4 separate regions of the Homo sapiens genome follow, and regions 1, 3 and 4 are each linked to region 2. Evidence: fine-mapped expression QTL. A gene starts in region 2. Each other region holds a variant in brackets. All regions are shown on one strand. Distances are between the middles of the regions.

Region 1 (8,105 bases), 54 kb after region 2:
AGGTTTAAAAAGGCACTTTACAAACTGTCCCCCAAAACAGCCTGCCAATGTCCCATGAAATACTAGAGTCAGAAAAAGATGAAAGAGCAGTATAGTTATTCAGGACAGGATTTCTGTGCAATAAATTACATTATAAAGACAAGTGAAAACCATTGGGGTCTGAGGATTAGCTGGTAGTAATGTACTGATGCTTACTGTCTGATATTGAGGATTGTATTGTGGTTATACGGGAGAATGTCCTTATTTGTTGGAAATATCCACTCAAGTGTATAAGGGTGATGTGCGTTCTGTGGGTAGCTTGCTCTCAGGTGGTTCAAAGTAAAGGGTATAGTATAATTTTTGCATCTTTTCTGTAATTGGGAGATTTTTTAAATTAGAAAGTTAAATTAGAAAAGGAAGAGCAGGGGGGCCGGGCGCCGTGGCTCACGCCTGTAATCCCAGCACTTTGGGAGGCCAAAGTGGGCGACCACCTGAGGTCAGGAGTTCAAGACCAGCCTGGCCAACATGGTGAAACCCCGTCTCTACTAAAAATATGCTGGGCGTGGTGGTGGGCACCTGTAATCCCAGCTACTCCAGAGGCTGAGGCAGGAGAATCACTTGAACCCAGGAGGCGGAGGTTCCAGTGAGCTGAGATTGCACCACTGCACCCCGGCCTGCATGACAGAGCGAGACTCCGACTCAAAAAATAGCATAACTAAATAAATAAATAAATAAATAAACAAACAAAACAAACAATGAATTCCAATTCATAGACAGCTTTAGGAATATTTAAATTATCTTTATTTCTTGTGGCTATTTTGCTAAGTAGTGTTTTTTAAGAAATTTGTCTATTTAATCCAAGTTGTCAAATTGATTGGCATAAAGTTATTCATAAGATCCCACTATTTTCCTTTTAATGGCTGTAGAGTTTGTAATAACATCCCATCATTAATTCTTGATATTGGTATTTCATGCTGTTGTTCTTTTTTTCTTTTAAAGTTTGGTTTATTACTTTTTTTTTTTTTTCCTGAGATGGAGTTTTACTCTTGTTGCCCAGGCTGGAGTGCAGTGGCGTGATCTCGGCTCACTGCAACCTCGGTCTCCTGGGTTCAAGCGATTCTCCTGCCTCAGCCTCCGGAGTAGCTGGGATTACAGGCATGTGCCACCACGCCTGGCTAATTTTGTATTTTTAGTAGAGATGGGGTTTCTCCATGTTGGTCCGGCTGGTCTCAAACTCCAGACCTCAGGTGAATCGCCTGCCTCGGCCTCCCAAAGTGCTGGGATTACAGGGATGAGCCATCTCGTCCGGCCAGTTTATTACTTTTATTAATTTTGTTGATCATTTCTGAGAACCAACTCTTAGCTTGTTGATTCCTTTTATTGTTTGAATTCTATTTCATTGATTTCAGTCTTATTATTTCCTTGTCATGTTGTTACTACCTTTGAGTTTAATTTATACTTATTTTACGGGTAAGTAATGCACACCTCTGAGTCATTGATTTTGATACCATTCTTCTTTTAATCCTTAAGAACTTTACTGAGATATACTTTATATATGATGTAATTCTTTCCTTTAAATATATTTATAGAAGTGTATAACCATCAATAAAATCAATTTTTGAAGATTTTCATCATCATCCCCAAAAGAAACTCCAGGCCAGGCACGGTGGCTCACGCCTGTAATCCCAGCACTTTGGGAGGCCGAGGTGGGTGGATCACGAGGTCAGGAGTTCAAGACCAGCCTGTGCAACATGGTGAAACCCTATCTGTACTAAAAATACAAAAATGAGCCGGGCGTGCTGGCAGGTGCCTATAGTCCCAGCTACTCGGGAGGCTGAGACAGGAGAATCACTTGAACCCGGGAGGCAGAGGTTGCAGTGAACCGGGATCACGCCACTGCATTCCAGCCTAGGCGACAGAGCAAGAAGCCAATTCAAAAAAAAAAAAAAGAAATATTTTGAATTCTCTTTGATTTCATTCGTGAACTATGAGTTATTTATAAGTATGTTGCTTAATATTCACATTTTTGGAGTCCTTCTAGATATTGTTATTGCTTAACACTTTAATTTCATTGAGATCAGAGAACATATTTTATATTATTTTGTTTTAAATGTATTTAGATTTGTTTTATAGTTCACAATGTGGTCTATCTTGGTGAAGTACCATGTTCATAGAAGAGAAGGAATCTCCCATAGATGTTGCATATATGCTCTATAAATGTCAGTTAAGTCAAGGTGGTTGACAATGTTCAGATCTGTTATTTTACTGTTTTCATCTGATCGTTCTATCAGTTGCTGAGAAGGGGGTGACATGATCTCCCTTTAATCCTTTTGAGCGTTGCTTCATTTATTTTAAAGCTCTACTATTAGACATATACACATTTATGATTATTATGCCTTCTGATGAATTCATTTTTTTTTTCTTTTTTGAGACGGAGTCTTGCTCTGTTGCCAGGCTGGAGTGCAGTGGCACAATCTCTGCTCACTGCAACCTCCGAATCCCTGGTTCAAGTGATTCTCCTGCCTCAGCCCTCCCCAGTAGCTGAGATTACAGGCAAATGCCACCACACCCAGCTAATTTTTGTATTTTTAGTAGAGATGGGGTTTCACCATGTTGGTCAGGATGGTCTCGATCTCCTTGACCTCGTGATCTGCCCACCTCAGCCTCCCGAAGTGCTGGGATTACAGGGGTGAGCCACTGCGCCCGGCCTGAATTCACTTCTAACACTAAAAATAGTACCTTAAAAAAAAATCTCTACTAATAGCAAGTGAAAACCTGACAACGAGCTCCTGGTGACTCTGGACCTGGACAGTGCTCAGCCTTCTGTTCAGCTGTTCTTCCCACCTCTCACATGAAACATGTCTATGAAAGGCTGAGGACGTCACATCTGCATTGGTGCGGGCTTCCTAGAACCCATGTTACTCATTCATCCAAGGAGGGCATGTCGGCGCCTGGTAGAAACGCTGTGCAAGGAATCGTGGGGTATCAAGAAAAAGGCACGACCCTCCCTTTCCTTAGGACAGTTCCAGTTCCCAGGGAGATGAGGCACAGCCATCAATAACCCGAGTCACGAGGGGCTGCCCAGGCAGAGGTGACAAATGCCACTGGTGGCAGGGACACCGGTAGACATAGAGGGAAAGGTCCACATAGAGGGAAAAGTCCACACAGGCAGGTTCCTAGGCAGATACGAAGTCAAGGCAGTCGGGGAGGGCAGTCAAAACAAGTGATGCTGGGACACAACTCTGAGGTTTGTGGGCGTCTGATTAAGGGAGATGGAAGGTGAGGTCAGAGAAGTGAGGTTCTCAGTTCACAGATTTGGGCTCATGGGGGTGTGAGGTTGTGTGTGTGTTTGTGTGTGTGAGAGAGAGAGAGGGAGAGAGAGAAAGAGAGCAAGAGAGAGAGGTCTTGTTCCAGGTCTTCTCCTCCATAGACTCTCCTGACCCTGCCCTGCCTCTTCCTGAGATGAGTCATTCACCAGGGGGTTTCCTTGCCTTGTTCCTCTCGGATTAGCATTGTGTTAGGCTGTTTCAGAGGTAAGTTTGATATTCACACTGATTTCCTCTCTCAGGCATACACACCCTAAAAAAATGCCTTATTGATCTTAAAATGAGCAACTCAGAATTGTTCTGAGGTTGGCTGTGGTCGAAAATCTGCTTCCTTTGAGTCTTTCGTGGCTTTTTTATTTCTTTGTTCTTTTGGTATAAAAAGACCCCTGGGTTAAGAAGCAAGCCATCTGTCTTGTAGTCTCGGGCCAGCCTCATGGTCTGGGGGAAGCCACTTCTTCTCTAAACATGTCTATCATTCTGGAAATAAGAGGTGGCTTTACATGACTTCTCAGGTACCCCCAGCAGTGACCCAGCGCTGGGTGAATGCAGGCCTCATGAAAAAGCACCAAATACTCCCCTGGGAAAGGTCAGCAGAACCCAGTGACCCAATCACTGCTGCTGCCCCGAGGGT[T/C]GCTCATCCTCCTGCCCAGCCCCTCTACTGAACAAATGTTCTGAGTCTCATGCTGTTTGTCTAAAACAAAGACAATGAGGGTTCCTGTACAGTCTGGTTGTATGAGGATTAAGTGTGTTCATTTACATATGAAGTGCTAAGAACAGAGCTTGGCACACGCAAGTACTGTATTTCAGCACATGCTGTTGTTAGTACAATCATTCCCCTCAATGTTGATTTTAATGAAACCACATCCTCTAAGCCACCAATACCATGACCTGGGGCCTTGCAACTGCTGGAGTCAAGTAGGGAGGGATGGCATCCCTGGAGCCGGCACAGCCTCTCTGGAGGTGGGGGGTGGGGGAGGTGGCCCCCATGCTTCCTGATAGTTATTTAGGTCCCTAGTGACACCTCCTCCACCAGACTGTGGGCTTCAGGGAGCAGGACTGACACAGGGCTCATTTGTCCTCCCACCACCACCAGGCGCAGACATTCTCAGAGTAAAGTGCTCATCACCTACTTCCTGGGTGAGTGACTTTCCCTCCAAGCCCATGAGGTGAGCCCAGTGGTGGCCTCAGCTCACCGCCTCAGGTCACAGGTTCCAGGCTACAGCACAGGGATGGGACCCCGAAGAGTCCTGTGGACTCTGCTAAGGAACCCTAGGAGCTCCCAGAGGCCAAGTGCAGGGCAGAGATGTGGAGAAGCAGCTGCTCAGAGGACTTTAGCCCTGCAGAAGCCAAAACACGGCTGCTATTATACAGAAGGGGAGACCAAAAATGCTACAGACATGGCTCCGGCAGATTATTTTTGCCACCATCGAAGTGCTGAAACCACACTGTTAAGGAGAAAATCTTAAAAGCAGCCAGAGAACAAAGATCTCCTCCCCACAGACAAGCCAGGTGAGAGGCGCAGCCTAAGCCCTGAAAAACCACACAGGAAGAGGCAGCGGCAGAGGCCCCACCCCAGCCGGTGCTGCTCCCCTCTCCTCTTCATCAGGACTGTCCCCGCTCCCTCCACCCAGTGCTGAGACCAACAGCAGACATGGGGGCGAGGGTGTGATGCACTTAACATGACCTAAGCCACACAAATATATTACCAACAAACTCCAATGACTTAACTTTGAGATTCTCTTCATCTAAGTTTTTAAAGTGGTCATTCCTAGTTTCTCTCATTCCTACCAGTGCTCTGGACAGACTTGCCTGTGGCCAGGTGCACACACGTTCCCCCTCTGAGCTGCACACACTTTCCCTCTCTGAGCTTTGGTCCTCTCCTCTGTAAAATGTGATGATTCACATCCCCTCCTGGCCACAGGCGAGTGTCTGAGGTGCCGAGTGCACCCTGCTCTTCCCTACAAAGCAGACCCTTTCTCCTTTCCCCATTATCACAGATACCTGCCTGGGAATCCGGAAGAGGCCCTTCCCAGTCCAACAGGCAGCTGCTATTATCAAGCAGGCCAGGTCCCAAATGCTGGGGACTTCCTCCTCCTAAATCTCATTTTCTCCCCAGACAAAATGAGAGCAACAATCCCCACATCCCTGGGTTAGGAAAATACCCTGAATGAAGATGTGCAGTCTCTGGCTGGGCTGGCCCAATCTCTATGCCAGGTCCTTCCACCTCACCTCTCTCTTTAGCAAAGTAGAAATTGAGAAATTCTGAAGGCTCTGAAGCTTAGACACTCAGGCTATCAAAGAGCCCAGAGATTGGAGGCTGAAGACTGCCAGGGTTGGCCGTGCTCCTCTTCAGCTGTGACTCTGCTGTGGCCCCAGCTCCTTCCTATAAACTAGGCAGATATAAAATCTGCAGCGGCCCTTTATAAACCACAGTGGTCTGTGTTGGCAGATGTGTGCTGCCGTGTAGGAGGACAAATCACATGCTCAGGGCTGGTGTCAGTCACTCATGACTCTGGATCCCCAGGGCACCTGTCCTAATGAACTTGAAAGAGAACTGAAGGCACTGGCATTTTTCCAGACTAAGTGACACCAACTGCCCAACAGCACAGGCTCAGGGCATGGCACTGTCCCCATCTCCGACCTGGAAGCTAAAGCCTTGCTGCCCTGTCACTCCTGGATACAGGACAGAGGACCAGAACTGGGACTGTTGCCTCTCAGTAGGGGCTGGGTGAGCAGCCATCTGCAGCCACATGGATGGAGACCTTTCCTGCTCACTCTTCAAACTGCAACCAGTGCCGGGTGCCCACCAGAAGGACAACTGGAAGGAAACGTGGCAGGTAAGCCAGGCTGTGGCCCTGCAGTGACATCTTTGTCCTAACTTGAAGTCTGGCTCCTCTGTTCCTCCACGGCCCCTCCCCATGGCGCTCCACCCCATTCCTTAGAACCTTCTGCCCCAAGCTCAGAGAGCCAGTATGGAGGTGCAGGTGGGAGCAGGTGCAGCCTCTGCTGGGTAGAGGACAGGTGCTCTGGGGATCCAGAGTCCTGAGTGACTGACACCAGCCCTGAGCATGTGATTTGTCCTCCCACACGACAGCACACATCTGCCAACACAGACCACTGTGGTTTACACAGGGCCGCTGCAGACTTTTATATCCACCTAGTTTATAGGAAGGAGCTGGGGCCACAGCAGAGTCACAGAGCTGAAGAGGAGCACGGCCAACCCTGGCTGTCTTCAGCCTCCAATCTCTGGGCTCTGATAGCCTGAGTGTCTAAGCTTCAGAGCCATCAGAATTTCTCATTTCCTACTTTGATAAAGAGAGAGACGAGACGAGGTGGAAGGACCTGGCACAGAGATTGGGCCAGTCCAGCATTGACAGAGCCAGGACCTGGGGTGAGAAACTGAGCTCAGCTCCAGGCTCATCTGATGTCATCCTGACAGTCTGAGGACAGAGACATTATCTCCATTCACAGGCATGGCGGGTGGCAGGAACTGGCCCCAGCCGACCACAGTTTCCTAAGTGCAGAGGTGCGACTGCAGTCTTCCCTGCTCCCTCCCCAACGGTCTAATCTGGAGTCTCTAGGTCATCTACTCCCAGTCTCAAAAAATTCCTGGATCCTTGAAAATCTCTAATAACACTGAAACAAAAAATACAACATTGAGGTCTATCATTTTTTACCTCTTAGAGTAGCAAAGAATGAAAGTTCCATGTAGTAAGGGTGCAGGGACACGGGCACGCTTGTGTATTCTTTTTTTTTTTTCTTGAAACGGAGTCTCGCTCAGTCGCCCAGGCTGGAGTGCAGTGGCGAGATCTCGGCTCACTGCAAGCTCTGCCTCCCGGGTTCACGCCATTCTCCTGCCTCAGCCTCCCGAGTAGCTGGGACTACAGGCGCCCGCCACCGTGCCTGGCTAATTTTTTTCAATTTTTAGTAGAGACGGGGTTTCACCGTGTTAGCCAGGATGGTCTGGATCTCCTGACCTCGTGATCCACCTGTCTCGGCCTCCCAAAGTGCTGGGATTACAGGCGTTAGCCACCGCACCCGGCCACACTTTTGTATTCTTGGTGTGAGAGTAAAACTGGCACAATCTTCTCCCGAAGTACAATTTAGCAATATCCAAACAAAATTCTACATTGATGAGCTCATGTACCTAAAAATTCCTCTTCTAAAGGGCTGCCCGATACTTCAGGGAACATTGACATATGGACATATGACACATACAAGGGTTCTCACTACAATGCTGCTGGAATTAGAAAAAACAAAAGCAGGACATAATGTTAACAATTGCCCATGGGATGGAAGATTAAAATTAACTGTGGTTCACGCCATGTGTTTCACCCATGCACTAAATATTATGATGCTGTTAAAAAGAATGAGATACTTGCATGTACTGATAGAAAACATCCAATGCGATTTGTTCTTCAGTCAGAATTTTAAAAGTTAAGGTGCCTATAAATGCACAGGAAGAAGGCTGAGGGATGGTGGGATGAGAGGGTCCTGTGGGATGGCAGAAGGCCTTGGTGTCTGCTACGGGTCCTTTGTCCCTGCCAGGGCTCACGTTGAAATCTGAACCGTAATGTAGCTGGTGGGGCCTGTTGGGGTTTGGGGTGGATCCCTCATGAAAGGCTTGGTGCCATAACCGCCCCCTCCCACATTCCCCCAGGAGTTGTCAATCTTAGTTCCCCATGACACCTGGTTGTTAGAATGAACCTGGCCCCTCCCCGTCTCCCTTCCGGATCTCATCCCCCTCCTCCTGCCATCCTCCCCACCCCTTCCCCTGATGGGCAGAATCCAGCTGTCCTT
Region 2 (8,105 bases):
GAACTGGGACCGTGGCCTCTCAGTAGGGGCTGGGTGAGCAGCCATCTGCAGCCACCTGGATGGAGACCTTTCCTGCTCATCTTCAAACTCCAACCCGGGCCGGACACCCACCAGAAGCACAACTGGAAACTTGGCAGGTAAACCAGGCTGTGGCCCTGCAGTGCCATCGCTGTCCTCACTTGAACTCTGGCTCCTCTGTTCCTCGATGGCCCCTCCACATGGTGCTCCACCCCAGTCTTCAGAAGCTTCTGCCCCAAGGCCAGGGAGCCTGGTATGGAGGTGCAAGTAGGAACAGGTGCAGCCTCTGCTGGGTGGAGGACATGTGCCCTGGGGATCCAGTCCGGAGTGACTGACACCAGCCCTGAGGATGTGGTTCATCCTCCCACACCTGCTAACACAGCCCTCTGAGGTTTACACAGGGCTGCTGAAGATTTTTATCTCCTCTTCACTTTACAGGCAGGAGCTGGGGCCACACCAGTGTCACAGAGCTGGAGGGGAAGCACAGCAGGGCCCAGCTGTTCCCAGCCTCCAATCTCAGGAGTCCTTGAGAGCCTCAGAGTCCGAGATTCTGGGCCGTTGGATCTTTTCGATTCCTACTTTGATAAAGAGAAGGGCGGGGCGGAAGCCTCTGTCACACAGATTGGAACAGTCCAACGCTGACAGAGCCAGGACCTGGGGTCAGGAACTGAGCTCAGCTCCAGGCTCATCTGATGTCCTCCTGACAGCCTGAAGATGGAGACCTTATCTCCATTTACAGGCGTGGCAGGTGGCAGGGACTGGCCCCAGCTGACCACGGTTCTCCAAGTTCACAGCTGGGAATTCAGTCTTCCCTGCCACCCTCCCCTGCTGTCTCATCTGGATCCCCCGGTCATCTACTCCCACTACCAAAACTCCCGTATCCTTGAAAATTCCTAATACCATTAAGGAATGAAAGTACATAACAATGTGATGAATCACCTTTTACTTCCTAGACTAGCAACGAATGAAAGCTAAGTGTAACAAGGGTGTAGGGATACAGGCACATGTGTGAACTAGGTGTGAGTGTAAGCTGAGTTCAATGGTCTTTTGGAAGAAAATTCGTAAACATCTAAAGAAACTTCTGAAATGATTTATCCCACGGAAGTAGAAGTAAAATTCTACTTCTAAGGAGTTGCCCAATAAGCTGGTGCGCATGGACATGTGGACACACGATACATACAAGGGTATTTAGTACAATGCTGTTGGAATTAGCAAAGGCAAATTTGCTTTGGGTTATATCCCATCGGGATGGGATATAACCAGCTGCCTCTAGATGGCAACAGTGAATTAACCTGTGGCTTACCCATGTAGTAAAATACAATACCCTTGTTTAAAAGAAAATCAATCTGAATGTACTGCCATAAAACATCTAATGTGATTTGTGCTAGCTCCAAAATTTTAAAAAGCAACTGTGCATTGAAATGCATTTAATAAGGCAAGATTGATGGAGGGATCAAAGCCTCCTTTGGGACGCATAGAGTTCACATTCCCAAAACTGTGAAATTCAGGTTGCTGGTCTTGTCTACACAGGTCATCCACACATTCTCTCTTCAGGGCCACTGTCCTGACACAGCCATTCTTCTAGCTGCCTCAGGTAGGTCCACCCACTATAAACTATTGTAGAAGTCAGTTGTGTAATTTTTGAGAGGTGAAAATGTCACTGCTGTTCTGAATTTAGTATTACTTCGTTGAAAGAAAACATGGAGACTCTCATGGTTCATGTAATCTTGTTTTATCCTCCCCGTTTTGTTTTTTGGTATTACGTAAGAAACCTTAGAAAGCACTGTTGGCAGAAACGTCAGTCACTCAGAAAAAGTCCTGGCAGTCTGCACATCTTATTTTTATGTCCTTCTTGTGCACCCCACTACCAATCTCAGTTTCCAAACCCAACTCACAACGAGAACTTTACATCTTTTATGCCTAAGGAAGGGGCCATCCCGCGGTCCTGCCTATGGGATACAGAGGGGACACACGGGTGGCAGTGGAAGACACTGACTGCAAGCACCTTGGTTAACCGCTTCCTGCCACTTTCAGGGTTCTATAGGAAATGAAAGTTACAAAAAACAGCGTTGGAAAGCTTTTTCACAGGCTGTTTGTTAAACTGATCTCCAAGAAACACGTGTAACAGTGTAAACATAGGGTTAATTTTGTTTGTTTGTTTGTCTGTTTTTGTTAAGGCAGAGTCTCGCTCTGTCGCCCAGGCTGGAGTGCAGTGGTGCAATCTCGGCTCACTGCAACCTCTGCCTCCCGGGTTCAAGCAGTTCTCCTGCCTCAGCCTCCTGAGTAGCTGGGACTACAGGCGCAGGCTGCCACGCCTGGCTAACTTTTTTTTTTTTTTTTTTTTTTTTTTTGAGACGGAGTCTCGCTCTTGTTGACCAGGCTGGAGTGCGATGGCGCGATCTCGGCTCACTGCAACCTCCGCCTCCCGGATTCAAGTGATTCTCCTTCTGCCTCAGCCTCCCGAGTAGCTGGGATTACAGGCGACCGCCATCACGTCCGGCTAATTTTTGTATTTTTAGTAGAGACGGGGTTTCACCATGGTGGCTAGGCTGGTCTCCAACTCCTGACCTCAGGTGATCCGCCCGCCTCGGCCTCCCAACGTGCTGGGATTACAGGCGTGAGCCACCGCGACCGGCCTGGGTTAACGTTATGAACGAACGAACGAACGAACGAACGAAAGAGGCAACCGCTCTGTGGCTTCCTGAGGTTCACTCCGGGGTTTCCATCTTGACTCCCTCCCTCCGCTGATTCTGGAACTTCCTCTGGGGCAGCTCAGTGCGGTCCTCGCCGCACGGGACAGCCAGGGGGAGCGCGCGCTCTGCTCCCTCGCGGCCCGGTCGCTCCTGCCCAGCCCGGGCACCCCACTCTTCCCCTGACTCCGACGGCGGGTTCGTCCTGCCCAGACATGCCCGGCCGCAGGCGACCCGGGCCAAGCATCCCCACCGTGTCCCCCTCTCTCCCTGCCCACTCCCGGCGCCAGGTGCGCTCTTCCCCAGCCAGGGACCGCGGCGGAGACTCACCGGCAGCAGAACCGCGACGATGAAGACGACGAACTTAAGGATCTTGGGGTCCAGGAGCCATGGTCTGGTTCCCGACGCTGTCCTGGCTCCTGGATAGCGCCCTGCTCGAGCGCTCGAGGCGGTCGGGACGCTTTGTCCCCAAAGTCCCATGAGAAGGGAGGAGGGTGGATCGAAAGCGCCAAAAATCAATCAGAAATCGTCCCCGTAGTTTGTGCGCGTGCAAAGGTTCTCGCAGCTACACTGCCAGAATAGAACGTGCTCCTCCGCTTTTATACCCCGGAAAAAAGGCGTGGTCAGTTGTACTCCCTTCCCGCAGTCACTTCCAGGCACTCAGGCTGGGTCTCCCCCAGCACCTCCAGGAGGGCCCAGGTTGTGTGGGTGGGTGCATGGACGGACAGGAACTGGCTCTTTCCGGCAGCGGTGACCCAGGGCCTGCGGTTTGATTCCGGGTCCTGTCCAGGCTGTAGGCAGCAGAAGGGGAAGGAGCTGAGGCGCTGCCCGCTGCGCTGCTGTAGTCTGGGTAGTGAGCTCCAGAGGAGGCACTGGAGGCCCATCCTGAGCCTGCTCCCTCCCCGGGCCGCCTGTCTCTCCTCTTCTTAAACCCTGAACTACTTCCTGGCCTCAGGACTTCAGTCCACTCTTAGCTTCTGCTCCCACTCCCTCCTCCCACAGCGGCCTCACTGACCAGTGCACTGATGCCACTGATGTCTCCAGCCTCCTTGCTGCTGTGACCCAGCTCCAAGCTTCTCTGGCAGGGGCTTGGTATCCCTCAGTAGCGGGTGCCTGGCACCAAGGAGGGGCCCAGTGAACACATGAGTGGACAGAATGAAGGACACAGAGGCCATGACAGGCACCTGCAGAGGCTGAGGAGTAGGTAGGAGGGAGAGGAACGCCGGGGGCATCCCTAGCCACAACCTGGCACCCTTTGCATGGTCAAAGCACAAACACTCCCTGACCAACCTTGAGGGCTCTAGTATTGAGGCCCCATGGAGACAGGGGAATCAGGGGAGTGCCTTCCAAAGTCTGTCCCCAAGTCTATTGTCTACCCAGGTCCAACTGTCTGACCTTGGGCTACTTACCTCCCCATCCAGTTGAACACACTGCCGCTGTGAGGGCAGACCCAATGTGTGGTTTTGAAGGGTGCCAGCTTGTGACCCTAAGCAGTAAGGTCAATGGCAGGACTCCTAGACCCTTGGGATGAGTCGGCTCCTGACCCCTCACATGGTAGATAGAAGAGGATAGCGCTATAGAAATGAAGGTTTTTTGGCTCATGAGAAACCTGGGAATGAAATGTCATCCTCTCCACAGGCTTGGATTTGAGCGATGGATCACCCTGAGCACCTTCCAGGGCCCAGACAATGACCTAGGGTCAGAAATGTGAGCCAGGGCCGGGCGCGGTTGCTCACGCTTGTAGTCCCAGCACTTTGAGAGGCTGAGGTGGGCGAATCAAGAGGTCAGGAGTTCGAGACCAGCCTGGCCAACATAGTTAAACCCCATCTCTACTAAAAATACAAAAATTAGCTGGGCGTGGTGGCGGGCACTTGTAATCCCAGCTACTCAGGAAGCTGAGGCAGGAGAATTGCTTGAACCCAGGAAATGGAGGTTGCAGTGAGCCGAGATTCGTGCCACTGCACTCCAGTCTGGGTGACAGAGCGAGACTCTGTGAAAAAAAAAAAAAAGAAAAAAAAATGTGTGCCAGGTCCCAGGCACTGAGCTAGGGTCAGAAATGTGCGCCAGGTTTCAGGCACTGAGCTAGACTCAGAAATGTGTGTCAGGCCCCAGGCACTGAGCTAGGGTCAGAAATGTGTGTCAGGCCCCAGGCACTGAGCTAGGGTCAGAAATGTGCGCCAGGTTCCAGGCACTGAGCTAGGGTCAGAAATGTGTGCCAGGTTCCAGGCACTGAGCTAGACTCAGAAATGTGTGTCAGGCCCCAGGCACTGAGCTAGGGTCAGAAATGTGTGTCAGGCCCCAGGCACTGAGCTAGGGTCGGAAATGTGTGCCAGGCCCCAGACACTGAGCTAGGGTCAGAAATGTGTGCCAGGACCCAGGCAATGAGAAATGTGTGGGGTCAGGAATGTGTGCGGGGTGCAGATCCAGGCAGGAGGTGAAAGGTCAGGGACTTCAGGAAGACTGACAGCATTAACACAGAGCCACCAGGGCCTGCAGGAAAGTCCTTAGAGCACCTTAGCTCCCTTGGCCCTGGAGGGTGGACCACACAGTATAGACCAGAAACCAGACTGCAGGTAACAACGCATTCTCTGTGCCCTGTGTGGAGCACTGACTAGGGCTAATGGCAAAAGGCTGTGAGCACCTCCAAGGAACTGGGCCTTTAGAGTCAAGTTTCCACTTAAGAGGCACTTACTAGCTTGAGATGGAACACTAACTGAAGTCTCCCCTGTCACTGAAGGACATAAAATAATCTTGAAACCTGAAAAACTGATGATGTCTTCAGGAATCTTGGAAAAGCTCTAACGGGGAGGCCAGTCCCAGAAGAGTTCTATTACAAAATGGATTTTTTTTTTTTGAGATGGAGTCTCACTCTGTTGCCAGGTTGGAGTGCAGCACGATCCAGGCTCACTGCAACCTCTGCCTCCTGGGTTCAAGCGATTCTCCTGCCTCAGCCTCCCGAGTAGGTGGGATTACAGGCACATGCCACCACGCCTGGCTAATTTTTGAATTTTCAGTAGAGACGAGGGATCTTCATGTTGGCCCGGATGGTCTCGATCTCTTGACCTCGTGATCCACCCGCCTCAGCCTCCCAAAGTGCTGGGATTACAGGCGTGAGCCACCTCACTCAGCCTAAAAAATGGAAATGGTTGATATGGGATCCTGGTGCCTGAGGAAGGCAAAGAGGAGACACTCATGAGCAGGGAGCCTCTGTTCCCCTCAGACTGAGTCTGGAACTGGGTGAGGAGCTGCTGGATTCTGTGGTCACTTGGACATTGCCCTATACACAGCTCTTTACTTACTGACCAAGAGCTACTTAGTTTGTAGACAGTCATTCCTAGATGAATGGACAACATCCTACTTGGAAGGCCACCCCTCTGATGGAAGAAGGCAAAGGCAAATTGGCTAGGTGGGTTGGATTGCATGCTATTTTCCTAGCCTTATGGAAGATTTGAACAGCAGCAAAAGCCCCTGTACTTGAGTTTTTTTCTGGCTCATGGACAGTCGTCAATGTCCCGGTCATAGAGTTGGGAAGGAGAATGTGAAAGTTGATCGCACAAATTGGGTCATTCTTGTCACACCCAACTAAAACAGAGTCAAGAGGCCATGGGGAAGAAAAATCACTGTATTACCCCCAAACTGCAATTCTCTGTAAGTCTGGCAGCTGTAACGTGAAACTATTAATAGTTCTGTCTTATATCTATTGACACAACCAGCTGCTGCTCTAAGACCAGCCTGACCCACTGCAGTCACTCACCAGTCAGAGCATGCCACTTCTTCAAATTTTACAGCGCCAATGAACTTTCTGCAAAAAAAAATACTTAGTATTTCTCATTTAAAAAAAAACATCTGGCCGTGTGCGGTGGCTCACACCTGTAATCCCAGCACTTTGGGAGGCCGAGGCAGGCGGATCACGAGGTCAGGAGATCGAGACCATCCTGGCAAACACTGTGAAACCCGGTCTCTACTAAAAATACAAAATAATTAGCCGGGCGTGGTGGCGGGCACCTGTAGTCCCAGCTACTCGGGAGGCTGAGGCAGGAGCATGGCATGAACCCAGGGGGCGGAGCTTGCAGTGAGCGGAGATCACGCCACTGCACTCCAGCCTGGGCAACGGAGCCAGACTCCGTCTCAAAAAAAAAAAAAAACTTCCAAACTTCTCTTTGTTCTTTGGACGTACCAAAGACAACTTGGTCTTTGTGTATGCCAAGAATTGCAATTCTTACTTTCCAAATAAAGGGTATTAAATTTGGATATTCGTCTCTACATTTTCCATTGTTTCCAAGAGTAAGGGGAAACTGACCTAGTGTAGGGATGTCCATATGAGGCCCGACCCTATGGAAATCTCTAGGGGAGCTTGAGGAGTGCATTAAAGTAAGACACGCCCATGCTGGTCAGTAGAACCCACCCTCAGGTTTAGAAAGTGACTGTAATCAGCAAGAGATACCCCCGTGTACTCCCTTGAGGTGGTCACCAGAGGCCACGAAGCAAAAGAAGTGGATATGGGGGAACCACAGTGACGCAGAGATGGGCTGAATCGAAACACATTCCTCTTGCTCTCTCTCAGGCACATGACACCAATAAGAGCTGTTCTGTCTAGCAGCGGGAGAGACAGAGACTGCCTATAGCTATGAGGCAGATTCCCTGATGAGGAGGCCCTCAACATACTTGGAAAGTGAGACTGAGGGCAGTGCCCTGGGGGGTACAGGTGAGTCTCGACAGCAACAGAAACTGACTGTGGATTGTCTTTTCCTTACCTGGTGGAGGCTGCAAATGCCCAGAGTGCTATTAATATAAAAGAACTGAAAGAAGGTATTATTCTAGTTTGGACCACTAAACCGAACTTCCTTGGACCGAGAAACAGGCTGTTCAGTGCATAATGTTTAGCAATGGGCAGAGAGATATCCTCCTTAGAGTAATAATTTGATAGGGAAGCGGAACAGTCAACTGAAACATTGATTGTCTAAAATGGGGGGAGACACAGGCATGAAGGGCTGGCTTCCACACCTTCACTGGTGTGTGCCCCTACTCCACACGAGTGGGCTAAAGGAGTGTCCCCACCAGACTTTCCTCCATTTTTCCAGTGGATCTGGGGATGAGGGGGTGGGGAGGATGCTAGTATAATGACTGTCATTTTGTTGTTGTTGTTGGGTTTTTTTGAGACACAGTCTCACTCTGTCACCCAGGCTGTAGTGCAATGGCATGATCTCGGCTCACTGCAACCTCCGCCTCCCAGGTTCAAGTGATGCCTCCTGAGTACCTGGGACTACAGGCCCCCGCCACCATGCCCAGCTAATTTTTGTATTTTTAGCAGAGACAGGGTTTCACTATGTTCGTCAGGCTGGTCTCAAACTCCTGACCTCAGGTGATCTACCCACCTTGGCCTCCCATAAGTGCTGA
Region 3 (8,105 bases), 79 kb after region 2:
TTCTGGGCCCATATTTAATAACCATAAAGGGATTCTGAGTGGAATGCTCCCCACCTCTGACAAATCTAGCCTCTGACAAGCTAGATTTGACAAGCACCTATTGGTGCTTGGTACCAGCATGAGCTTACTTTATGGCTCAAACCTATGGGACAATTTGCTGAGGTCTGAGAGCAACCCACCCCTCACCCCTCCGCCCCACCAAGAGAATTACTATCTTCCCAAATTTGGTTGAAATCTAAAGTTTATTTTGCTATACAACTTTTTTTTTTTGGAGTTTTACTTGCTTCCAACAAGAAAGGCAAGTTTTCCTGCTTCCATGATGATGGAAGATAGGTAACTCCTTTATGGAGTTTGAGCTCACTTCCAACAGGGAAGGTGAGTTTGTTGTTGTTGTTGTTGTTGTTGTTGTTGTTTTGTTTGTTTTTCTGCTTCTAGGATGGTAGAGAGTGGTCTACAGCCTGAGATCCATTCCTAGATAAGCAACTGAATTGGGGTTTATCTTGGCTAAAGTTAAGATTAAAAACCAGCTGGTCTTTATTTCTCCTTACCATTACAGTGCTCAGGAATTATGTTAAGTTGTGAGATTGTTTGTTTTGCTTAACTTTTTTGTTGTTGTTGATGTTTATTTGTTTCTGTTTTTGTTGTTTCAGTCTTTCTCCCGTTGGGTTTGACCAACTCTGTCCAACTCAATCAAATCCGAAGGAAAGTTCCAAATTATGAGGAACAAGGCCTCTAAAGTGGCTAAATTCCCATACACAAAAAAAGGTGGTATAGTGAGGGGAGAAAAACGGCCAACAAAAGAAAAAAAATAAATAAAAACTTTTTTTTTTTTTTTTGAGACGGAGTCGCTCTCTGTCGCCCGGGCTGGAGTGCAGTGGCGCGATCTCGGCTCACTGCAAGCTCTGCCTCCCGGGTTCACGCCATTCTCCTGCCTCAGCCTCCCGAGTAGCTGGGACTAAGGCACCCGCCACTACGCCTGGCTAATTTTTTTGTATTTTTTGGTAGAGACGGGGTTTCACCGTGTTAGCCAGGATGGTCTGGATCTCCTGACCTGGTGATCTGCCTGCCTCGGCCTCCCAAAGTGCTGGGATTACTGGCTTGAGCCACCGCACCCGGCCGGCAAGAAAAATGTTTTATTTTTATTACTTAAGGGGTTTTATTTACATAACAAAGCCTCCTTTTTGCTAACCAGGCCAAACTGAAAGCAATGGCTGTCCCCCTACTCTGCAGTTCAATAGCTAAGGTTCTGCCTTTTTTTTTCTCCTGTCTTCATGACAGCCTAAGTTTGGTTCCTAAATCAAGTCCTTTCTGGTTTGATAGTTGGTACTTCTGCTTTTTTTTTTTTTTTTTTTTTTTTTTTGAGACAGAGTTCCGTTCTTGTTGCCCAGGCTGGAGTCCAATGGCGTGGTCTCAGCTCACCGTAACCTCCGCCTCCCGGGTTCAAGCAATTCTCCTGCCTCAGCCTCCCGAGTAGCTGGGATTATAGGCATGTGCCTTTTGAATTTCTTAGTAGAGATGGGGTTTCTCCATGTTGGTCAAGCTGGTCTCGAACTCCTGAGCTCAGGTGATCCACCAGCGTCGGCCTCCCAAAGTGCTGGGATTACAGGTGTGAGCCACCGCGCCGGACCAATACTTGGTACTTCTGAAATAGCAGCAATTTGTCCTAGCTGAAATATAATAATAAAATTTTGAATTTTTTTTTTTTGAGACAGAGTCTTGCTCTGTCGCCAGGCTGGAGTGCAGTGGCACGATCTTGGCTCACTGCAAACTCTGCCTCCCGGGTTCAAGCGATTCTCCTGCCTCAGCCTCCTGAGTAGCTGGGACTACAGGCGCGTGCCACCACACTCGGCTAATTTTTGTATTTTTAGTGGAGACGGGGTTTCACCATGTTAGCCAGGATGGTCTCCATCTCCTGACCTCATGATCCGCCCGCCTGGGCCTCCCAAAGTCCTGGGATTACAGGCATGAGCCACTGCACCCAGCCCAAGATTTTTTATTTTTAAAGACACTCAATAGTTAAAAGTCAACTTAATTAAAAGCTAATATTTAAAATGTATGTGTATGTGTATGTGTGCATAAGTGCATGTTCATATTTAAAAGGCCTTCATGGTTTTGTTTTTGTTTTTCTCTGCTAGGACCTTGTCTTTTTTTGAGCAAAAACTTTTTTTGTTCTCAATTGACTCAATTCTGTTTCCACTCGATTTTTTTTTTTTTTTTTACTAAAATAGTTATTGCAACAGAGGCTACTCTTGGGTTTTTAAGAAAGAGTATAGTTTAGACACTTAGAAATGCTTTGTTTACAAAAATGTTTTAAGTGCACTGTAAAAGCATCATGTGGTCTAGCCTCATAATAATTCTCCCTTTTTGGAGACCCAGGATTCAGTGTGGGCTCTGCCCAGAGCTCAGAGATCCAGTTAAAAAAGAATTGGTAGTCCCTATCTAAATAACAGTGGTCTCCTTATACAATCCAGTGATAAATTTCTATAATTTTATGTTCAATTGGCAATTAAATCTGTTTTAATTTCCCTCTAGCTCACAGAATTTCTCTTCAGACCTTATAATGTAAATTTTGCTATCTGACTTTCACCTGAGTTGTTTCCTTTAATATGCAAATTTAAGACTATTTAGCTGACTACTGCCTAGCACTGTGAAACAGGTTATCAAGAATCTGAAAGTCTAAGATAAAGAAAAAAGGTTTTTATGAATCTGTAAGATGTACTTCTTCTATCAGCATGCCTAATACATCTATGTATTTATATGTTATGTATACAATGTTGCACTCCTGAAAATATATCAAAGAGCTCTAATTAATTGTCTTAAAAAATAAAAGCATTTACATCAAATACTTTATTAGAAAAAGGAAAGACTAGTCAAATGCTTTTTCAAGTTATGTGACTTAAGTAAAATCTTTAATAAATAAGCTATCTTTAAAATTATTGGTAAAGTAATATTAGAAATGTCTTAGGAATTGCCAGCATACATTTTTATTTGCGTTTATTAATCAAGCAATTTCATACTTAACCCTGCCAAATACTATTAGGTGTCAAAATTTGGCACAGGCTATAAACCCAGCCCAAGACAGAATGATCTCTGCTCGTGTAACCATTAATAAATAAGACATTGATACTGGTTTAATGAAAATAGCTACATCTTGATTTAGTAAAATTACCATAACTTCTAATCTTGTGGCAGTCTAGGCAGTCTAGTCCACAGGCAGTAAGGAGTTTTGTTTTGGGAAAGGACTGTTATACTTTGTTTCAAAGTTAAACTATAAGTAAACTTGCATGGGAAGAGAATGTTTAATTTTGTGAAAAACGACCAAACTGTCTTCCAAAGTAGCTCTTAGAGACAACCTGTCCACAGAAGAACGCAGCAAGCCCCCTCCCCTAAATGCCCTGCAGCTTATTTCTTCTGAGATGCTGCCCCTACTTCACGTTACCAGAACTTAGGTACAGCTGTATCCACCCCCAGGCCAAA[C/T]CACATCCTGGTACTCTAAGCCAGGTGGGGCAAGAAGTGACAAACAACTGCAGGATGTAGACTAACCTCAGAAAGCCCCTAGGCCCTCAAAGCCCTATATAAGTCCCTCACCTTAAACACCCTGGGCTGCCTCCTCTGACTGTTATGCAGCAGGCCGGCAGGTCAATAAACTTGCTTGCCTGACTTTGAGTATACTCGTCTTTTCTCTTGGCCAACCTTACGGTAGCTGTACCAGTTTGCATTTCCACCAGCAATGAATGAGAGTTCCTGTTGCTCTGCATCCTCACCAGCATTTGGTGTGGTCAGTATTTTGGATTTTCACCATTCTAATAGGTGTGTAGTAGTATGCTATTCTTGTCTAATTTGCTGTTCCCCAATGACATATGATGTTGGGCATATTATCATATACTTATTTGCCGTTGGTAGATCTTCTTTGGTGAGAGGTCTGCTCAGATCTTTTATCCATGTTTTAACTGGGTTATTCTTTTTCTTTTTTTTTTGAGTCTTAAGAGTTCCTCGTGTGTTTTGGATAACAGTCCTTTATCAGAGATGTCTTTTGCAAATAGTTTCTACCAGTCTGTGGCTTATCTTCACATTCTCTTCACAGTGTCTTTCAGAAAGCAAATAATAATAATAATAATAATTACGTCTAATTTATCAATTATTTCTTTCATGGATTATGCTTTTTGTGTTGTATCTAAAAAGTAATCATGATGCCCAAGGTCATCTAGATGTTTTGTCTTCTAGGAGTTTTATTGTTTTGTGTTTTTACATTTAAGTCCATGATCCATTTGAGCTGGCTTTTGTGAATGGTGTAAGATCTGTACCTGGATTTGTTTTTGTTTTTGCATGTAGGTGTACAGTTGTTCCAGTGCTCATTGTTGAAAAGACTCTTTGAACCATTGTATTGCCTTTCTTTTTTCGAAAGGTCAGTTGACTGTATTTACATGTGCCTATTTCTGGGATTCCTATTCTGTTCCATTTATCTATTTGTTTATTCTTTAACTAATACCACACTATCTTGATTACTGTTGATTTATAGTAATTCTTGAAGTTGGGTTGTATCCGTCCTCTGACTTATTTGTTCAATATTGTGTTGGCTCTTCTGGGTCTTTTGCCTTTCCACATAAACTTTAGAATTAGTTTGTTGATATCCACAAAATAACTAGCCATGATTTTCACTGGGATTTCACTGGATCTACAGATCAATTTGGGAAGAATTGATATCTTGATAATATTGAGTTTTCCTGTCCATGAATATAAAATGCCTCTGTATTTATTTAGTCCTTCATAGATTTCTTTCATCAGAATTTTGTAGTTTTCCTTATGTAGAATTTGTACATACCGTGTTAGATTTATACCTAAGTTTTATAGGGGGGTGCTAATGTAAATGGTATTGCATTTTTAATTTCATATTCCACTTGATCATTATAGGTATATGGGAATTGACTTTTATACATTAACTTTGTATCTGCAATCTTGTTCTCATTGCCTCTTAGTTCCAGGACATCGATTTGGCAATTCTTTCATAATTTTCTGCATGGATAATTATGTCTTCTATAAAGACAGACCATTTTATTTCTTCCTCTTCAGTCTGTACAACTTTTATTTCTTTTTCTTGGCTAACTGTGTTAGCTAGGATTTCCCGTACAGTGTTGACTAGGAATGGTGTGAGCAGACATTCTTGTGTTATTCCTGATTCCACTGGAAAACGATCTAGGTTTTCACCATTAATTCTTATGTTGGCTGTAAGGTTCCTGTTTATGTTCTTTATCAAGTGGAGGATGTGTCCCTCTATTCCTAGAGTGCCGAGACTTTTTATCATGAGCTGGTGTTGGATTTTGTCAAATGCTTTTTCTGCATCTAGCAATATGATCATATGATTTTTCTTTAGTCTGTTGGTGGATTATATTAATTGATTTTTGAACATTGAACTAGCCTTGCCTAGCTGTAATAAATTCCGCTTTAACCTGGTGTACAATTCTTTTGATACATTGTGGGTTTCAATTTGCTAACATTCTATTGATGATTTTTGCATCTATATTCACAAGATATATTGTTTTGTGTTTTTTCTTTCTTGTAATGTCTTTGTGTGGTTTTGGCGTTAGGGTAATCCTTGCCTCATAGGATCAGTTGGGAAGTATTCCTTTTGTTTCTATCTTATAAAAGAGATGGCACAGAACTGGTACAACTTTTTTCTTAAATATTTGGTAGAACTTATCAAATGAAACCATCTGGGCCTAATGCTTTCTGTGTGGATGTTGTTAATTATTGATTCAATTAATTAGATATAAACATATTCAAGTGGTCTGTTTCCTCTTGTGTGTTTTGGCAGAGTGTGCTTTCAAGAAATGTGTCCATTTCGTCTAGGTTATCAAATTTGTGGACATACAGTTATTCATAGTATTCCTTTATTATCATTTTCATGCCCATGGGATCTGCAGTAATGTCCCTTATTTCATTTCTGATATTGAGTATTTGTTTTTTCTCTTTGTTAGCCAGGCTAGAGGTTAATCAATTTCATTGACCTTTTCAAAAAATCAGCTTTAGGTTTTGTTGATAATCTTTTGAGTTTGTTTTCAATTTCATTGATTTCTGCTCTTTTTATTATTTTTTCTCTTCTGTTTAATTTGATCTTAATTTGTTCTTCTTTTATAGATTCCCAAGGTGGAATCTTAGGTTATTTTAGATCTTTCTTCTTTTCTGGTTTGTGCATTCATTGATATAAATTTCCCTCTATACAGAGATTCACGGATCCATCCGGGTGGTCCGGGCACCACTGGCGCCCCTCTGCGGCTATTCCCCAGTTCCATTTTCTGAAGCCACAGGTCAGAAGCCGCTGTACAACGCTTTGCCGAACTCCAGAATCTTGAAGGAGACGTAAGGTGCAGCCACCTGCCGCGCAGGCGCAAGCCTTTCTTTCGGCACAAAGACCGTGGGAGGAGGGGTCGGCGCAAGCGCTCGGTGTCTCTCTGAAAAGAACTTCATCATACTGCCTCCTGGCTGACGGAGCGCAGCGCAACGCATGCGCCTTGAAGACTTATGGAACTTATTTCACGCTCAGGGCGGCGGTGACGTGTGAACGAGAAGGAGGTGGTCAAGGAACGGAAGCCGGGAGGGAACGAGGGCGGAAGCGGACCAGGGCCAGGCTTGTGTTCGCAGCCTTGCCGGGGCTGGGGTTCCGATGTGGTCCCCGGAGCGGGAGGCCGAGGCCCCAGCCGGGGGAGACCCGGCGGGCCTTCTGCCCCCCGAGTGGGAGGAGGACGAGGAGCGCATGTCCTTCCTGTTCTCCGCTTTCAAGAGGAGTCGCGAGGTGAACAGCACCGACTGGGACAGCAAGATGGGCTTCTGGGCGCCGTTGGTGCTGAGCCACAGCCGCCGCCAGGGGGTGGTGCGCCTGCGTCTGCGGGACTTGCAGGAGGCCTTTCAGCGCAAGGGGAGCGTCCCGCTGGGGCTGGCCACGGTGCTGCAGGACCTGCTGCGGTGAGGGGCGGGCTGGGGCCAGGGCCGCGAGGGCGGGCGGGGGCAGCTCTCGGAGGGCCGGGCCCTGGTCCTGTTCTCTGCACAGCGCACTGCGCCCAGCCCAGTGTCTGGCCCAGAGAAGGCATCCAGTGTGTGTTCAGAAGGCGAAGAAGGAAAATAAGGAGGCTGGGCTAGGGAGGCTTGGAGGGAGAGGAAGAGGGGATCTGGGGGAAGATTGGGGGGCGGGGATAGTCCGATTAGACGAGTTCCAGAGAAGCCAGCCTAACAGAGGTGACAGTAATTTGCCTGGACTGGGACCCCGTTATGTTGTTGTTTCCTAAGGGCCTCCAAATTTGAATGGCCCGTGGAGCAGAAGGTCTAAGAGATAGGATTCATTAACCTAGGGAAGGTTAGAGCTAAAAAGCGGGCATTCGTGGGGAAGAGGCCTGTAGGCATCTTGCCAACAACCCCTGGCACAGCTCATTCGTCTGGCTTGTCCTTGGCACAGGCTTTTTGGAGCAGAGAGGACGTGAAGGAGAATGAGGGCTTTGCTGAGTATCTGAGTGCCCTTAAAAGGTCTGTAGGAGATACGTGTGCGACAGGTGCAGTTTTGGCGGTATCTGAGGGTAACATTGATAACTAATACATGTACAGTACTTCCCAGCATGCAGATACTTTGCATGCACCATTTGACCCACTCAGCGGTCTTGTGGTGAGGTGATAGAATTATCCTCAGCAGACAGAAGAGGAAACTGAGTTTCAGAGAGATCAAGTGACTTACTCAGAGTTACACAGCTAGTTAAAGGTGATACCGGGACTGGATCCCTGGTCTTTGGATAAGTCATTTGCACTTCAGTGTACTTATCATTCTGAGACCAGCCTAGCGTGATACCTCTCTCAGTGAGGGAAGGAGAAAGTCAACTCTGATGTTTTTTGTTTGGTTGGTTTTTTTTTTTTTTTAGTTTGCTGCTCTTTCTGATTAAGAGATCTCCCTTCTCTACTTTTGTTCCCAGTACCTTCCCATTGGACTGGACATTGATATTGCCCAGGATGGTCTCGAACTCCTGCACTCAAGCGATCCTCCCACCTCAGCCTCCCAAAGTGTTAAGATTACAGGCGTTGAGCCACTGCACCTGGCCAACGAGGCTTTCTGAGATGGCATACAG
Region 4 (8,105 bases), 23 kb before region 2:
TAAGTCAAAAATATCCGAAACTGAAAATACAGGTAATAACAAGATAATCCCGTTCTAAAGTTAAAAAACTATAAGGCAAAGCATTGTGGCTGTGCGGCATCTGTAGTTAGATGTCATTAAATGCACACACCAGTAGAGATGGAGCTTGCAATATAAGAAGCAGAAAAAAAGACTTGTCTCATGATGAAGAACTGCAAAGAATGACATCCTAAAACCACTTTTTTTCTTTTTAAATTGAGATGGAGTTTCACTGTGTTGATGAGGCTGGTCTCAAACTCCCGAGCTCAAGCAATCCACCTGCCTCAGCCTATCAAAGTGCTGGGATTACAGGCATGAGCCACCGCATGTGGCCTAAAACGACCCTTAATACACAATCGTATAACTATGCAGCCAAGAATCTGATATAAATTTCTCCCGTTTGCTTATCACACGCAGTATTTCATAAAAATTACTCCAAGTGCGTTAACAAAGTTCTAGGACCATTGGTAAGCTGCCCCATATTGGATAGTAGAGTTTGTTGGGGCATGGGTCAAGTACTGGACTGTTTCTTCCAGGCTGCTTCCCTTTGTAGGAGAAAAGGTAAATGAGGGAAGCTCTGGTTTCCTGAAGAGATTCTTTCACAGGCAGGACGTAGCAGAGCCTGCCTCATCTTCTTCATAAAAGAGCTTTTCGGAGCCCACCAGTTGGTCCTGAATTGTTTCCTTTGCATGTCCTTCTTCCAGTGTTGCCGAGGCATCCAGCAAGGTGCTGACTGAGAAGAGAGAAGAGATTTAGGGTCTCAATGCTCCAAGGACGATCAGCACAGGATCGACATGGGGCCCCCTGCTTCCAGCAGTGAAACCTCCAGAAGAGCCCTCTCAGCTATAGGGACAGCAGTTAGGACACCGTCCCTATTCCCTGTCCTCCTGCTGCGTCTCAAGGCACAAAACACTTACTGTCAGCGGAGTCAGCGTCATTCACTGGAACCAGCAGCCTCCTCCTCTGACACCCTTCAGCTTCTGCCTGTTCCTGTAACACACAGTGGGGAATGCTCTGGTCAGAGTCAGGAGTCCTGCAGTCTAGTACTGACCCTGACCACTAGCCAGCAAGAGACCTGCAGCGCTTTCCCTCTTGGGTCTCCATGGAGATGGAGACAAACCTCTGGTCCTCCATAGCTCTTGGGCTCTGTGTGCTGGTGGCTCATTGAGACATAAGTGACATGCAGTAAATGCTCACTTTGTAAGTGTTCTGACCAACTTTGACTATAGGCCTGTGTAATTATCCCCTGATCAAGACATAGAAACTGCCACACCCCAGAAAGTCCCCTTCTGCCCCATCTAATCAACTCCCACCCACCCTCACAAGAAATGATCACTTCCTTCCAGAATTCTTACCAGCAGAGTCTCGGCAGACTATATATGAGAGCACCCAGGAAAACCTAACAAAATGATTTATCCCAAGACTGTAAATGATCTTTGATCATCAGTACTCTACCATATCAATAGCGTAATTAAATAAAATGGCAGTCTCTATGGAGGCTGGAAAGACATTTGGTAAAATTAAACAGCAATTCTGATTTTTTTCAAACCCTTTTAGAATAGTAAGCTGTGTTCTTGATGATGAGAATTTCTATATGAAACCAAAAGTGAATGCCATTGCTAAGAGTGACACTTTGGAGGCCTTCCCCAGAAATCAAATCAGGACCCAAACACCTGCCTTCCCTAAGCACAGCTGAATATTGTTCTGAAAGGTCTGGCCTAGGCAACAAGATGGAAAATTAAAATGAGGCAAGACTTTTGGAAGAGGGCAGACACAATAATCATTATTTTCAACGTCATTTAAAACCCCTAAGATGAAACTACAATATTGAAATAGAAATGTATGTCTGGAGGAATGTTAAAAACATAGCAAATGCAATAAATTAGCAAACAGAATTACAAGGTTATCCAACTCATAATGGATACAAAATACTAAACAGCCATAAGAAACAGGAATAATTTATTTGAAGAGGAACACAAATCACAACTCAGTTACAATAAAATACTTGACACCAAATGTTATCTCCTTTGATAAGGAAATACTGAATATTAATAAAATATTCAGTGTTTCTAGATTAATTTTTAATTTTAAAGCGAATTGATAAAACGGCAACTGAGGTTTTTCGGGAGGGAAGGATGGAGGAAATCTTTTAATTCTAAATTTTATCTGGGTAAAATAATACATTTTGAAAAAGTATGGAAGAGGTGTTTGCTCTTTTGGATGTTAAAAAACATTAGAAAGTTCCCATTGGAACATGCCTCAAAATGGTAAGAGCCATCTATGACAAACCCACAGCCAACATCATACTGAATGGGCCAAAGCTGGAAGCATTCCCCTTGAGAACTGGAACAAGGCAAGGATGCTCACGCTCACCACTCCCATTCAACATAGTACTGGAAGTCCTAGTCAGAGCACTCAGGCAAGAGAAAGAAAGAAAAGGCATCCAGATATGAAATGAAGAAGTGAAAACTCTTCATGGACGATATGATTCTATACCTTGGAAACCCTAAATACTCCACCAAAAGGCCCCTGGAACTAATAAACGACTTCAGCAAAATTTCAGGATACAAAATCAATGTATAAAAATCAGTAGCACCGGGCACCGTGGCTCACACCTGTAATCCCAGCACTTTGGGAGGCCGAGGCAGGCGGATCACGATGTCAAGAGTTCAAGACCAGCACGACCAACATGGTGAAACCCCGTCTCTACTAAAGAATACAAAAATTAACGGGGCGTAGCTGGGTACGGTGGCTCACGCCTGTAATCTCAGCACTTTGGGAGGCCAAGGAGGGCGGATCACAAGGTCAGGAGATCGAGACCATCCTGGCTAACACGGTGAAACCCCACCTCTACTAAAAATACAAAAAACTAACCAGGCGTGGCAGTGTGCGCCTGTAATCCCAGCTGCTGGGGAGGCTGAGGCAGGAGAATGGCGTGAACCTGGGAGGTGGAGCTTGCAGTGAGCTGAGATCGCGCCACTGCACTCCAGCCTGGGTGACAGAGCAAGACTCTGTCTCAAAAAGAAAAAAAATCAGTAGCATATCTATATACCAATAATGTTCAGGCTGAGGACCAAATCAATAACACAATCCCATTTACAACAGACACACACACACACACACACACACACACACACACACACACACAATACCTAGAAATACCTCTACCCAAGGATGTGAAAGATCTCTAAGAGAATTACAAAACACTGCTAAAAGAAATCATAGATAACATGAACAAATGGAAAAACATTCCATGCTCATGGATTGGAAGAATTAATATGGCTAAAATGGGCATACTGCTGAAATCAATCTACAGATTTAATACTACTCCTATCAAATTACCAATGTCATTTTCCACAGAATTGGAAAAAATTATTGGAAGTAACTGAATCACGTGGACTGGTTTTTCCAGTTCTGTTCTTGTGATAGTGAATAAGACTCACAAGAGCTGATGGTTTTATAAAGAGCAGTCCCCTGCACACGCTCTCTTGCCTGTCGCCATGTAAGATGTGCCTTTGCTCATCTTTCACCTCAGGCCATGATTGTGAGGCCTCCCCAGCCATGTGGAACTGTGAGTCCATTAAACCTCTTTTTCTTTATAAATTACCCAGTCTCAAGTATTTCTTCATAGCAGTATGAAAATGGAATAATACAACTCCCCATTCAACAGCTGATGCTTCGGATATTTGGCTAGCCATATGCAGAACAACGAAAACTAGACCCCTACTTTTCACCATATACACAAATTAACTCAAGGTAGATTAAAAGTTTAAAGGTAAGACCATGAACTATAAGAATTCTAGAAGAAAACCTAGAAAACACCCCTCTGGACATCAGCCATGGCAAAGAATTTATGATTAAGTCCTCAAAAGCAATGCAATAAAAACAAAAATTGTCAAGTGGCATCTAATTGAACTAAAGACCTTCTGCACAGCAGAAGAAACTCTCCACAGGCCGGGTGTGGGGGCTCACACTTATAATACCAGCACTTTGAGAGGACGAGGCAGGCAGATCACCTGAGGTTAGGAGTTCGAGACCAGCCTGACCAACAAGACAAAACCCCATCTCTACTAAAAATACAAAAATTAGCTGGGCATGGTGGCACGTGCCTGCAATCCCAGCAACTAGGGGGGCTGAGGAGGGAGAATCACTTGAACCCGGGAGGCGGAGGTTGCAGTGAGCTGAGATCATGCCACTGAATTCCAGCCTAGGTGACAGAGCGAGAGTACAT[C/A]TCAAAAAAAAAAAAAAGTATCAACAGAGTAACAGACAACCTACAGAATGGGAGAAAATATTTACAAACTATGCATCTGACAAAGGTCTAATATTCAGGAGCCATATGCAACTTAAATGAACACACAGAAAACAACCCCATTAAAAATGGGCAAAAGACATGAACACACATGTCTCAAAAGAAGACATACAAGTGGCCAACAAACATATGAAAAAATGCTCATCATCATGAATCATCAGAGAAATGCAAATCAAAACTACAGTGGGATACCATCTCATACAGTGAGAATGGCGATTATTAAAAAGCCAGTAACAGTAAATGCTGGCGAGACTATGAAGAAAAAGGATCATTTATATACTTTTGGTGGGAATGTAAATTAGTTCAGCCAGTATGGAAAGGAGTTTGGAGATTTCTCAAAGAATTTTAAAACAACTACTATTTAACACAGCAAACCCACTACTGGGTATACATAGAAAAGAAAACAAATCTGCTGGGCGCGGTGGCTCACACCTGTAATCCCAGCACTTTGGGAGGCCGAGGTGGATGGATCACGAGGTCAGGAATTCAAGACCAGCCTGCCCAAGACGGTGAAACCCCGTCTCTACTAAAAATACAAAAAATTAGCCGGGTATGGTGGCACATGCCTGTAATCCCAGCTACTCTGGAGGCTGAGGCAGAGAACTGCTTAAACCTGGAGGGGCGGAGGTTGCAGTGAGCCGAGATTGTGCCACTGCACTCCAGCCTGGGTGACAGAGCGAGACTCCCTCTCAAAAAAAAAAAGGGAAAACAAATCATTCTACCAAAAGACACCACTATCCATAATAGCAGTGACATGGAATCAACCTAGGTTCCCATCAACAGTGGATTGGATGAAGACAATGTGGCATATATACACCATAGGTTACCACACAGCCATAAAAAAGAATGAAATCATATTGTTTGCAGCCACATGGATGAAGCTGGAGGCCATCATCCTAAGTGAATTAATGTAGGAACGCAAAACCAAATACTGCGTGTTCTCATTTATAAGTAGTAGCTAAACATCAGGTACTTACGACCATAAAGATGGCAACAATAGACACTGGGGACTACCAGGGCGGGGAGGGAGCGAGAGGAGGAAGGGGTGAAAAACTAACTGTTGGATACTGTGCCCACAACCTGGATAAAATCATTCATACCTCAAATTTCAGCATCAAACAAACTTACATATGTACCCCCTGAATCAAAATAAATTTGAAAAAGGAAAAATAAAAAATGAAAAAAAGTTTCCTTGGCAGTGTATTATATGTAAAGTAATCCCTGTAATGTAAACAAAATGTACATACGCTTGTATGAATATACATGGCATATGCATAAAGATTTCTACAAAGAATCACAAGAAATTATCTGTTGTATTCACCTGAATGAAGAAGGGCTGGGGGCTGGAGGAAGTGTTAGGGGACTACCACTATGACTCAGCACCTTTGTTTTTTTTTTGTTTTTGTTTTTGTTTTGAGATGGAGTCTGACTCTGTAGCCCAGGCTGGAGTGCAGTGGCGTGATCTCGGCTCACTGCAGGCTCCGCCTCACGGGTTCACGCCATTCTCCTGCCTCAGCCTCCCGAGTAGCTGGGACTACAGGCACCCGCTACCACGCCCGGCTAATTTTTTGTATTTTTAGTAGAGGTGGGGTTTCACCATGTTGGCCAGGATGGTCTCCATCTCTTGACCTTGTGATCCACCCTCCTCGGCCTCCCAAAGTGCTGGGATTACAGGCATGAGCCACGGCGCCCGGCCGACTGAGCACCTTTCTATAGTGTGGCAGATGTGTGGCTCTGCATTTACCACTTTCAAAAAATGTGCAGCGCGGCCAGGTGCAGTGGCTTATGCCTGTAATCCCACCACTTTGGGAGGCCAAGGTGAGAGGATGACTTGAGGCCAGGAGTTTGAGACCAGCCTGGGCAACATAGCAAGATCAGATCTCTACAAATTACAAAACAAAGGTGCAATGCGATTCAGCAGCGTGGAGTAATTGTTGATATTTTTTGTTTATTTCCTTACCTTTTTATACTTCCCTTCATTAAAAAAAATGGGGTATAGTTATAGGAAAGGAAGAAAATGGGTGGAAAGTGAACCTTGTCTAGGTAAGTATTTGACAAGTGATCAAAGAGGAGCCAAAAGCAGAGAAAAATAGGAGAATCAGTTCCTAAACAGGCGTGGAGGAAGGAGACAGTGACTCACAACAATTCAGGGAATTCCTCACTTCACACAGCATCACAAAAGAAATGGCACCTACGTTCCACTGGTGTATGCTACAAACCAAATCATTCTTTAAAAGTCCACAAAAAATTAGGTAGGATCATCTTATTTTATCCTGAAGGAAAGAACTTAAAAAAAAACAAATGTGTGTCCAGATTTCACACCTACTCAATGTCATATCAAAACTAGTGAATCGATGTGAATAACTGGATGTGTGTGTTTCTGTAATACAAAAGCACTTCTACACACTGACTCAGAAATCCTACTTCTTCCCAGAAGCCTCCTTACATACTTGATCAGAAATCTGGACAAAGATTTACTGTGAAATATGTTCAATGTAGTAAGAATTTTGAAGAACATTTAAAACTTCCGCTGTTTCAAGCAAGGGCTCCCTGACTTCTGTTAGGAGCACACGATGGAGACTGTGCAGCCTTATTCAGTCCTCAGTGAACCCTGTGACACCCACTCTATGCCTGTGGAGATCCAGGCTCTGGGGACACAGCAAGGACAGGACAGGGAGTAAGAAGCAGATGTCCTGCAGACTGGCACGGTCACCACCTCAGTGCAGCTGCTCCGTCCCCTGCAGTCCCCTGTCTCCCAAAGGCTCCATGTCCCCTTGGGCCAGGAAAGAGGAGGCACTGCCATGTCCCACTGTCTACAAAGTCCTGTGCAGGCTGCACGCCAGGCAGGGCACAGTCCCTCCTCAACTCACCAGCAGACGCTGTGGCTCCTCTGGCAACTCTACAGTCACACCTGTTAGCTCTGCCAGCTCCTGACCTTGGATTTCCTGCTCAGAGACCTGGGTGGGCTGCAAGTATCTGTTACTCAGGGTCTCGTTGCGGGCATTGTCCTCCGCCCCAGGAACTCGTGAAGGACATGAACGCCGCCGGAAAAGGACCTTGGGAAGACAAAGAGCCCACTCAAGTCCACACCCCGGGCTCAGCTTCAGGGTCCCCAGTACACAGCTGGACCTGCCATCCCCAACCCCTTCCAATGAGGTCACCCCAGGCAGCTGAGGCTCAGCACATCCAGGACCCCATGCTGAGGTGGGTCAGGTGGTCACCCCATCCCCATGGGGCCAGCTGTGGAGTGATGGTGTCACCGAGGCTGCAGGAAGGACAGGGCTGCAGCACGGCCTGCTGGTCTGTGTGCTGCTCAAAATGGCCGTGTGTCCCCCACAGTCAGCCCAGATCCCCCAGGCCATGTCAGAGAGTCAGGGCAGCCATGAGGACAAGGGATTGTGCCCACCCAGGCTCGGCAGTGGATGGGAAGCAGTTCCTGAACCCACGAAGCCCCCAGTTTCTGGAGAAACCAACTCACTCTGTGCACACGTTCGGGACCTCCTCCACCACCTGGAAAAGAAGCAGTCTCCTGAGCAGGCGGGGAGGGGCCCATGCAGCACCTCCCTCCCAGAGGACAGTGGGGCGCAGGGCTGGCTGGGGGCTGGGACACTGGACAAGGAGCCCTGGGGCTGGGGACAGAATGGGGCCTTGCAATTAGGGGACACCCTGAGGAAGGGGGATGAGAAGGGGAACTAGAGTAAAAACCAACACGTGGAAAATCTCTGTGTTCTGCTCTGACCAAGGCTGAATAAATCCCACGACCACTTCTCATCCTGAC

What was found.
Region 1: its variant is fine-mapped to the expression of TNFRSF10D in whole blood (TOPMed, PIP above 0.99).
Region 3: its variant is fine-mapped to the expression of TNFRSF10D in whole blood (TOPMed, PIP 0.97).
Region 4: its variant is fine-mapped to the expression of TNFRSF10D in whole blood (TOPMed, PIP above 0.99).

What each region holds. Positions count from the first base shown.
Region 1 is chr8:23,214,828-23,222,932 of GRCh38, forward strand. All of the region lies in intron 1 of TNFRSF10A (TNF receptor superfamily member 10a), which reads right to left. Among named protein-coding and RNA genes, the nearest start is that of TNFRSF10A, 6.2 kb to the right of the region's middle. RefSeq lists enhancers at 3,393-3,592, 4,623-4,692, 4,873-4,932. The variant T/C (reference allele first, on the strand shown) is at 3,937.
Region 2 is chr8:23,160,748-23,168,852 of GRCh38, forward strand. It overlaps TNFRSF10D (TNF receptor superfamily member 10d), which reads right to left and starts at 3,280. Exons shown (of 9, transcript NM_003840.5): 1 at 3,039-3,280. The coding sequence starts at 3,188. RefSeq lists an enhancer at 3,018-3,137 and a silencer at 7,726-7,906.
Region 3 is chr8:23,240,035-23,248,139 of GRCh38, forward strand. CHMP7 (charged multivesicular body protein 7) reads left to right here and starts at 3,603. Exons shown (of 11, transcript NM_152272.5): 1 at 3,603-3,810; 2 at 6,222-6,960. The coding sequence starts at 6,662. RefSeq lists enhancers at 3,295-3,796, 6,366-6,615, 7,419-7,468 and a silencer at 6,636-7,145. The variant C/T (reference allele first, on the strand shown) is at 3,478.
Region 4 is chr8:23,137,253-23,145,357 of GRCh38, forward strand. TNFRSF10D (TNF receptor superfamily member 10d) reads right to left here. Exons shown (of 9, transcript NM_003840.5): 6 at 7,806-7,837; 7 at 7,198-7,383; 8 at 936-1,008; 9 at 1-751. The coding sequence ends at 618. Among named protein-coding and RNA genes, the nearest start is that of TNFRSF10D, 23 kb to the right of the region's middle. RefSeq lists an enhancer at 7,338-8,065. The variant C/A (reference allele first, on the strand shown) is at 4,250.